Linked DNA regions of Homo sapiens: region 2 is linked to region 1. The links come from fine-mapping of genetic effects on gene expression. A gene starts in region 1. The other region holds a variant in brackets. All regions are shown on one strand. Distances are between the middles of the regions.

Region 1 (4,154 bases):
CAGGACCCTGCCCACTCCCTGTGCCCCTGCCTCACCCACTGGGCTCGCTCCTTCTGTTCCTTCAACTCCTGGATCAGCTTCTGGACCTGGTTCTGCAGGAGTTTCTCCTGACTGTGGGAGCTCCTGGAGGAGGGGTGACCTCAGCAGCCCCCACCCTGCTCAGGCAGGGGTTCCTAATGTCAGGTCAGTGGCGAAGGAGGGGAGAAGGAGGGGCTCCACTGCCACCTTGGCCCCAAGGGCACACAGTACAGCCCCGCTGGGGCTGGCCAGCCTCCGGCTGGTCTGGACAAGGGTCTAGCACCCATCCACATGCGCAGGGTTAGGGTGGAGGCTATAGCGTGTTAACTTAGGATCAGGGTGGAGGGTCAGCGCGGGCAAGGATGAGGGTAAGGATCTGCCTCAGCGGTTGGGGTTGGGGTCAGACAGAAACCAGGAGTCCGGGCGAGGACAGGGCGGGGTTGGGTTGGGCTGGGGACTGTGCTGCAGACCTCTTGGGCGGAAGCCCCGCCACCTCTTCCAGGATGTGGCAGAGCCGGGCGTCCTCGCCATTCTGGATGGCCCACCGCAAGGCCTGGATCTCCAGTTCTCGCTGTCTCCACAGCAGCCGCAGTGTGCGAGGGTCCAGGGACTCAAGAGCCAACCTGCAGCGGCAGCAGACCCTGCTGCTTACTCAGGCCGGCCCCTGGCCACCTGGCCCAGGAGGCTCACCAGTCCTCCCTCTCCTCCTTACTGCGGGTCGGCAGAGCAGACCACCGGTGCGGGGTGGGGCGTGGTGTCTGGCAGGCACGTGGGAGTCTCGGGGGCTGCAGGTGCGCCTGCTGGAGGTCCCAGGTGACCACTGACCGACTCTTGCTCTGTGGGGGACAGGAGAGCCTCTTCCTCGGTTTCTTCAACCTCCTGGCCAGACTTGGGGGCCATTCTCAATGTTCTTCGGGAGCTGGGAGGGGTGGGGGGCCCGTCTGCCGTGTGCGCCTCGTGTGGCCACACAGGTTGGAGCAGCCCAGGCGTCACCACTTACTCACAGAGCGTTGCTCTCTGAAGGGACCCACATGTGGGTGTCCACACCCGTGTGTTTCTGACCAGGCTGGCGCAGCAGGTCACCACCCGACATGTCCCTGGCGTGTACCCCTGCCACCCAGGTGCTGGCCCTTTGCCTGTGATGTGGTGTCCCTCTTTCTCTCTCTTGTCCCCCCAGCTCAGGGCCCTACCCCCAGCACTCACCTGAGGCCCGACCTCCAAGCAGGCCTGGGAGGGAAGGGCTGTATACCGTTGCCATGGATACCAGCACCCAGAAGGGGTGGGGCTGTTTGTTACCAGGAGCCTCCAGGGAGACCCCAGACCAGGCCCCTAGGTGAGTTCTGGGCCAGCCCAGCCTGGAGGAGGTGTGAGAGGCTGAGCCACTGCTCAGCTTAGCGGGGGGACCACTTAGTGACCAACACCCTGAGGGAGGCCCCAGCATCCCCTACCTAGCCTGGCAGCAGCAGCGGGATAAATAGGGGGGCACTGCTGCCTGTGAGCCAGCCCAGCATAGCCATGGGTGTGTGGGGGAAGCAGACAGGTAACAGTGACAAGCTGGGGACTGTGCTGAACGCTAACTGGCAATAGTACACTCCTGCCCACAGCCTGTTTTTAAATTAATAATTAATTCTTTAGAGACAGGGTCTTGCTCCGCTGTCCAGGCTGGAATGCTTCGGTGTGATGACAGCGCACGTTAACCTCGAATTCCTGGGCTCAGGTGATCCTCCCACTTCCGCCTCCTGACTTGCTGAAACTACAGGCACCCGCCTCCACCGCCAGGCCCAGCCCACAGCTCCTTTGACCTCAGTGACAGGCACTCACCTACCTGACCCCCAAACTGAAGCCTCACTTTTCCCAGCCGTGTCCACACCCTCTGGGCTACCCCATTACCATGACAAGTATTCCCTCTGCTCCAGGAGAAAAGCCAGGTCCCAGACCTGACCCATTAAAACCCAATCATTCCAGCTTTCACCCTTCATCTCTGCAACTTTCGGCTATGTAAGGGCTCCCTGGGGGAGCACAGGAGACAGGCGGGCAGGAGGCCCACGCCCACAACTCTTTCTGAGCTGGGCAGAACAATCAATGGCCCACACAGCTGACCGCGAGGCTGCGGGGCCCTGGGCGGGACAGTAGGGTAGGGGGTGAAGGAGCGGCTTCCAGCCAGCTTCACTGTGTGCATGGCCTGGCACTGGGTCCAAAAGGGGCAGGAAGGTGTCGGAGAAGAGCCTCAGCTAGAGTCCGGGCCTTCTGAGCGGGCACCTCCCGCACCAGGACTCTGCGCCCGCCAGCTCCGCAGGGCTCCACCTCCCTCGCCGGGACTGGTGACCCTGCGACCCCGCGACCCCTGCGCGTCCAGACTACTGCAGCTGCGGTAGGCCCCAAAGGCTGGCCCGGGAAGCGAGGGGAGGGGCTGGCCCCGCTGCCCCTGGACGCAGGCGGGGGTTGCGGGATCTCAAGCCAGAGACCCTTCCTGGGCGGGAACCCGCCACACTAGAAGGCTGCTGAGGAAGTCGGCCCAGGAGCGGGGCCAGACACCTACCCCGACGCCTGCCCGCGGGCCGCAGCCACCGCATTTCCGCGTTTTTCGCGGTAGGCGGGAGGTGGGGGCGGGGACTGCGGCTCGGCGCCCCCCTCCGACCCGCCCACACCTGTAGTCTCGGGGGGGGCGGGGCGCGGCGACGAGCCAATGGGTCGGGGAGGGGCGTGACAGAGGCAGCCAATGGGCGCGGGGAGGGGGCGGAACGCCCGCGCTGAGCAGCCAATAGGGGTGCTAGGGGCGGGGCGTGCGGACCGCGGGCCAATGGGGGCGCGGGGCCCGGGTGCGCCGCGGCGCTGGGGGCGGCAGGTTGCGGCGGCGCCGGAGCGGGTCTCCAGGCTGGCGAGCGCCCAGGTGAGCCGCGCCGGGTCCCCGGTACTTGGGAGCGCGGGGCGCGCCTCGAGCCGGCCGGACGCCGACTCCAACTGGGGAGAGTTTTCCGCGATGCCCGGACGGAGAGCGGGGGCGGCGCCGCACCTGCGCCCGCCCTGCGGAACGGGGACGCCCTGGCTCCCGCCAGGCTGGGGTCGCGGCGCGGGCTTCGGTGCCCGCGGCGGGGACCGGGACTTTCGGGGCGAGCGCAGCGATTAGGCGGCAGCGGCGGGGCTCCCCGGGCTGGCGGGGGCTGCTCAGACCCGGAGTCTGCTCCATCTGCAGGGTCGAGGTCTGGGTTGCGACCCCGAGCGCCTCTGCGGCCTGAGCAGGTCGGGGTGGGGCGTTCCCATGCCGGCGGCCGCGGGGCCTGGCGTGCGGGCGCCTCCGCGCCGCCCGGGGAGGGGGCAGTGTCCTCCGAGCCAGGTGAGGCGAGTAGGAAATGCTGGATCTGGTTAATGATTCGCCTTGTTCCGGGAGTGCGAGCGTGGCAAGAGGAAGCTGGTGAAGTGGGGGAGGATGCGTGCTCCGGAGGGCCGCCACCCCAGGAATGTGTGGCTGGCGGGTGGGGCTGGCACAGGAGGGTGGGGCCCGTGCGGAGGGGCGGCAGCCCAGCCGTTTCTAGGGCAGGCCAAGAGGATGAGGAGAGGAGGACCAGCCTGCGATAGGAGTAGGCAGGTCCTGACCCGGTGCCTGCGCCCTCCCCACAGGACAGGCATGTTGTTGGGACTGGCGGCCATGGAGCTGAAGGTGTGGGTGGATGGCATCCAGCGTGTGGTCTGTGGGGTCTCAGAGCAGACCACCTGCCAGGAAGTGGTCATCGCACTAGCCCAAGCAATAGGTGAGTCCTCTCGGGGTCAGGCAGGCCGGGCAGGTAGAGCTGAAGTGGGACCTGGTGGTCCAGCTCCATGGTCTCCCCCAAGGAGAGTGGGGCTGGTTGCTGATCCTTTTTGTTCTTCCCAACTCTTCAAGCCAGGTGGACAGAGAGTCGGGGGGACATAGGCTGACCTTCTCCTCTTCTTCCCAGGCCAGACTGGCCGCTTTGTGCTTGTGCAGCGGCTTCGGGAGAAGGAGCGGCAGTTGCTGCCACAAGAGTGTCCAGTGGGCGCCCAGGCCACCTGCGGACAGTTTGCCAGCGATGTCCAGTTTGTCCTGAGGCGCACAGGGCCCAGCCTAGCTGGGAGGCCCTCCTCAGACAGCTGTCCACCCCCGGAACGCTGCCTAATTC
Region 2 (4,508 bases), 31 kb after region 1:
ATTAGATAAATATTGGGCAGAAGAGGGCATTTGCAAACAAGTTTGTCAGTATAGAAATCTTACAAATGGAACCGGGTGCAGTGGCTCACGCCTGTAATCTCAGCACTTCGGGAGGCCAAGGTGGGTGGATCATGAGGTCAAGAGATCAAGACCATCCTGGCCAACATGGTGAAACCCTGTGTTTACTAAAAATACAAAAATTATCCGGGCGTGGTACCACGTACCTGTAGTCCCAGCTACTCGGGAGGCTGAGGCAGGAGAATCACTTGAACCTGGGAGTTGGAGGTTGCAGTGAGCTGAGATTGCACCACTGCACTCCAGCCCGGCGACAGAGCAAGACACTGTCTCAAAAAAAAAAAAAGGAGAACTCTTACAGATGAACTGTTAAAATGCTGCTTAGCGAGATTATTGGATACGAGGTTAATAAAGATTAAAATTGTGTTTAGAAATAAGTCATAAGGAGACGTGTAAGACATTTAAAGAGCTTTTCTAACACAGCCGTGACTGAAGCAAGGCCCCTTCCCTTTCGAGACATCTTGCTCCATAGAGAGGTTGAGGATGCTGATTCCGTCCTTCCCAGCAGGAGTTCAGGGTGCTTGATGTGTTGTGAAGTCAACACAGGAGGACAGGAAGGCACCAAGAATTGCCAAGATAGCTTTGAAAAGGGGAGAAATTGCCTACTGGATATTATGATTTATAAAACTACAGGGATTGAACTGGAACCGGTCCAGGAATGGAAACCAGTCCCAGGGGTTTTGCAGGGGCTTAGAAGAGGCCTGGACACACTCGGGGGGGCAGGAGGCGCCTGTGGGGCAGGTCAGCTGGGGGCTGCTCACAGCACACACACGATGCCGGACGGAGTCAAGATCTCGGACTAGAAAGCAAAGCTGAACCTTTGAAAAGAAAGCATGGGTAGCTCTGTGATAAGAAAAGAGAAGGATTTCCTAAACAGTCTGAGAGAGTGTCTGCAAACGGGCACGGAGCATGTCAGGCTCAGCCTGAGAGGGTGTCTGCAAACGGGCACAGAGCGTGCGGGGCTCAGCCTGAGAGAGAGTCTGCAAACGGGCACGGAGCGTGCGGGGCTCAGCCTGAGAATGTCTGCAAACGGGCATGGAGCGTGCAGGGTTCAGCCTGAGAGGGTGTCTGCAAACGGGCACGGAGCGTGCGGGGCTCAGCCTGAGAGTCTGCAAACGGGCACGGAGCGTGTGGGGCTCAGCCTCAGAGAGTGTCTGTAAACGGGCATGGAGCGTGCGGGGCTCAGCCTGAGAATGTCTGCAAACGGGCATGGAGCGTGCGGGGCTCAGCCTGAGAATGTGTGCAAACGGGCACGGAGCGTGCAGGGTTCAGCAGCAGGGCTCCTCTGGGAACCCCAGTCCCACCATGGGGGGTGCTGCCGCACACCCCTGGAGCTGGTCGGTAGGAGGGCACCCCAGACTCCAGAGGTGGGGGTGTCACACGTACAACCTCAAAGGCCATGTATTCCTGGGTGTTTACCCAAGAGAAACAGGAGTGCGCCCACACGAAGACACGTCCATCGATGTTCACCACGGGGGAATGGACACGTGGACCATTTGTGTGGCAGTGTCTCTTCAGTGCTAGGGAGGGCAGAATGCCATGAGCAGAGTCCATGCTGCGGCTCCAATCCTGAGAAACCCCAGGGAAGACGTACCTAACCACACCCCTGAGACAACAGGAAGAAACAGTCAGGTGGGAGAGGGAAGGGCCCGAAGACCAGGGTGGGTACTCCACAGGTTGTATATTTGTCAGAGCCGATTGAATTATTCAGTTAAAATCAGTGTTTTCTTGTGTATGGTGTAC[C/G]TTAATAAAGCCAACATAAAGATCTTATGTGGGTCAGAACACTATTAATAAAGGCAAAAATAAATTTGCAACGTATACCTGACTGTTATCCATACTATGAAAGTAAATTTTTTTTTGAGATGGAGTTTGGCTCTTGTCACCCAAGCTGGAGTGCAGTGGCGCCATCTCGGCTCACCGCAACCTCAGCCTCTCGGGTTCAAACGATTCTCCTGCCTCAGCCTCCCGAGTAGCTGGGGTTACAGGTATGCGCCACCACACCTAGCTAATTTTGTATTTTTAGTAGAGGCGGGGTTTCTCTGTGTCAGTCAGGCTGGTCTCGAACTCCCGACCTCAGGTAATCTGCCTGCCTCGGCCTCCCAAAGTGCTGGGATTACAGGTATGAGCCCCTGCTCCCGGCCTATGAAAAGAAATTCTAAAAATTTACTAGTGAATGTCCAACAATCTTTTGGAAAAGTTAGCAGAAGACTTGAACAGGCTCGCCGCAGAGGGGCCTGTGCACAATGCCGCCCCCACGCCTGTCCTTCCTCCCTTTATTGTTCTTACTTGTCACTGAGATGCTACGCGTTCATGGAGCTGCTCTTTCCTCCCCGCTAGGGCTGGCAGCTCTGCAGGGAGGCAAGGCTCGCTGTGCTCCCTCCACTGCCGTGTTGCCAGCAGCTTAGTGGAGGGCCTGGCGCATGGAGGCATTTAGCAGATACTTGATTTTCAGTGTAAAAGAATTTTTGATCTCTAAGTGAAAGTGATTGACAAGATTCTGATCCTGTTTTTATTTCTCACAGAATGCCAATTCCTGTCCAGTTGATCGAACTCTATTTAAGTGCATTTGTATTCGAGCTCAATTTGGTGGTAAAATCTTAAGAAAGGTGAGTGTGGACGCTGCCGTGGAGGCCCCAGCCGTGCTTCTATCCCGGCCCTGTGGGACAGAGCATGCTTTCCAAAGTGGGCTTGCTCTCCTGAAATGAGGGTTGGTTAAATGCTTCATAGAAATCAACTCAAGTGCCCCTTGTGGCCATGAGCCCTGTCTGGGGGGTTTGGGGTCTGGGTTGGGGGTTAGAGGCAGAGATATTGCCAGCTCCTGGGATATCCCTTCGACCCCACCCCTGTACCCATCACATCTGGGAGCAGTGCTCTGGCCCGTCTGCTCGGAGCTCTTTATTTTTGAGACACCATCTTGCTCTTTCACCCAGGCTGGAGTGCAGTAGCACAATCACAGCTTACTACAGCCTCAATCTCCTGGGCTCAAGCAATCCTCATGCCTCAGCCTCCTGAGTAGCTGGGTCCACAGGCATGAGCTACCACACCCGGCTGTTTTTTTTTTTTTTTTTCCCGAGACAAGAGTCTCGCTCTTTTGCCCAGGCTGGAGTGCAGTGGCACAATCTCGGCTCACTGCAAGCTCTGCCTCCTGGGTTCACGCCATTGTCCTGCCTCAGCCTCCCGAGTAGCTGGGACTACAGGCACCCGCCACCACGCCCGGCTAATTTTTTGTATTTTTAGTAGAGACGGGGTTTCACTGTGTTAGCCAGGATGGTCTCGATCTCCTGACCTCGTGATCCACCCACCTCGGCCTCCCAAAGTGCTGGGATTACAGGCGTGAGCCAACGTGCCCAGCCTTTTTTTTTTTTTTTTTTAAGAGGCAGATCTTGCTCTTCCGTGGCAGTCCAGCACCTGCTGCCTCGCCCTACTGCGGCCCACTTTGGGGCCGCAGGGCTTACCCGCTCCTTTCCGTGCATCATACTTTGTTTTCTGTTGAATACTTTCCTCTTAGATCACCACCCTGAGATGGTAGAAAACATAAAAATCCCTGTGTACACGTGGAGGGAGACCCTCTGGGCCTGTGGAGCCCAAATATGAATCTAAGGCAATGGGTGGATTCTGGATTAACTGCGTTTCACGCTGGGAAGTGACTGCGGGGAGTTTGGGTCCTGTGTGGTGGTGACCGACGATTCTGTCCTAGATCCCAGTGGAGAACACCAAAGCGAGCGAGGAGGAGGAGGACCCGACCTTCTGTGAGGTGTGCGGCAGGAGCGACCGTGAGGACAGGCTTTTGCTCTGCGACGGCTGCGATGCGGGGTAAGGGACGGTTGGGACTGGCACACGTGCCCTGCTGCGTGCAAGGCGGGCCAGGCGCAGGAGGGATGCAGAGCCTCTTCGCTCTGTGAAGTCTGAGTCCCAGCACCTGGAGCTGTGCTCACCACCCTCAGCAGCGCGGTTCAGTCCTGCGGGCCTTCCTGTTACACTCATTTACACTTCAGTCTTTCCCCAAAAAACATTCTGAGGCTGCCCACAGAAGTGCAGGTAATACATCAAGACAAAAAAGAAAACAGCCGGACAGGAGGCTGTGGGGCTGGTCAGCCAGAGGGTGGGACGTGTCCTGGTCCCGGCCTTTGTGGGGGAGGGGTGGCTATGCCTGCGTCCATCATTCTGGCTGCCTTGGTCCCTCACCTTTCACCCTGCTCCTCCTTCACCCTCTGGTGCATGTCCAGTTATGCTGCACCTGCTGCTCTCCCTGGCACAGCTGAGAGCGCCTGCTCTGGCCCTGCGTGGCCCTGGCTTCCCGGGAGCCTGTGACACTTGTCTCCTCATCCCTGCTTTGTGTCGTTGGCTGTAAGCAGATGCCCCCTTCCCCGTTAGCCTCCTGCGAGGGGCTTTCCCTGTTGATTTGAATAATTTTTCTGCTGTGAAATTATGGA

The links. PIP is the estimated chance that this variant, and not a neighbour inherited with it, causes the effect.
Region 2: its variant is the best candidate, but not a certain one, in a credible set for the expression of LMNTD2 in Th2 cells (Schmiedel 2018, PIP 0.62).

What each region holds. Positions count from the first base shown.
Region 1 is chr11:558,126-562,279 of GRCh38, forward strand. LMNTD2 (lamin tail domain containing 2) reads right to left here and starts at 2,613. Exons shown (of 14, transcript NM_173573.3): 1 at 2,558-2,613; 2 at 731-854; 3 at 489-641; 4 at 36-123. The coding sequence starts at 2,591. It overlaps RASSF7 (Ras association domain family member 7), which reads left to right and starts at 2,845. Exons shown (of 6, transcript NM_003475.4): 1 at 2,845-3,352; 2 at 3,637-3,767; 3 at 3,954-4,154. The coding sequence starts at 3,644. It overlaps LMNTD2-AS1 (LMNTD2 antisense RNA 1), which reads left to right and starts at 1,137. Exons shown (of 2, transcript NR_147607.1): 1 at 1,137-1,351; 2 at 1,654-1,981. RefSeq lists an enhancer at 3,648-4,154.
Region 2 is chr11:588,787-593,294 of GRCh38, forward strand. PHRF1 (PHD and ring finger domains 1) reads left to right here. Exons shown (of 18, transcript NM_001286581.2): 5 at 2,598-2,681; 6 at 3,773-3,888. Among named protein-coding and RNA genes, the nearest start is that of PHRF1, 15 kb to the left of the region's middle. The variant C/G (reference allele first, on the strand shown) is at 1,819.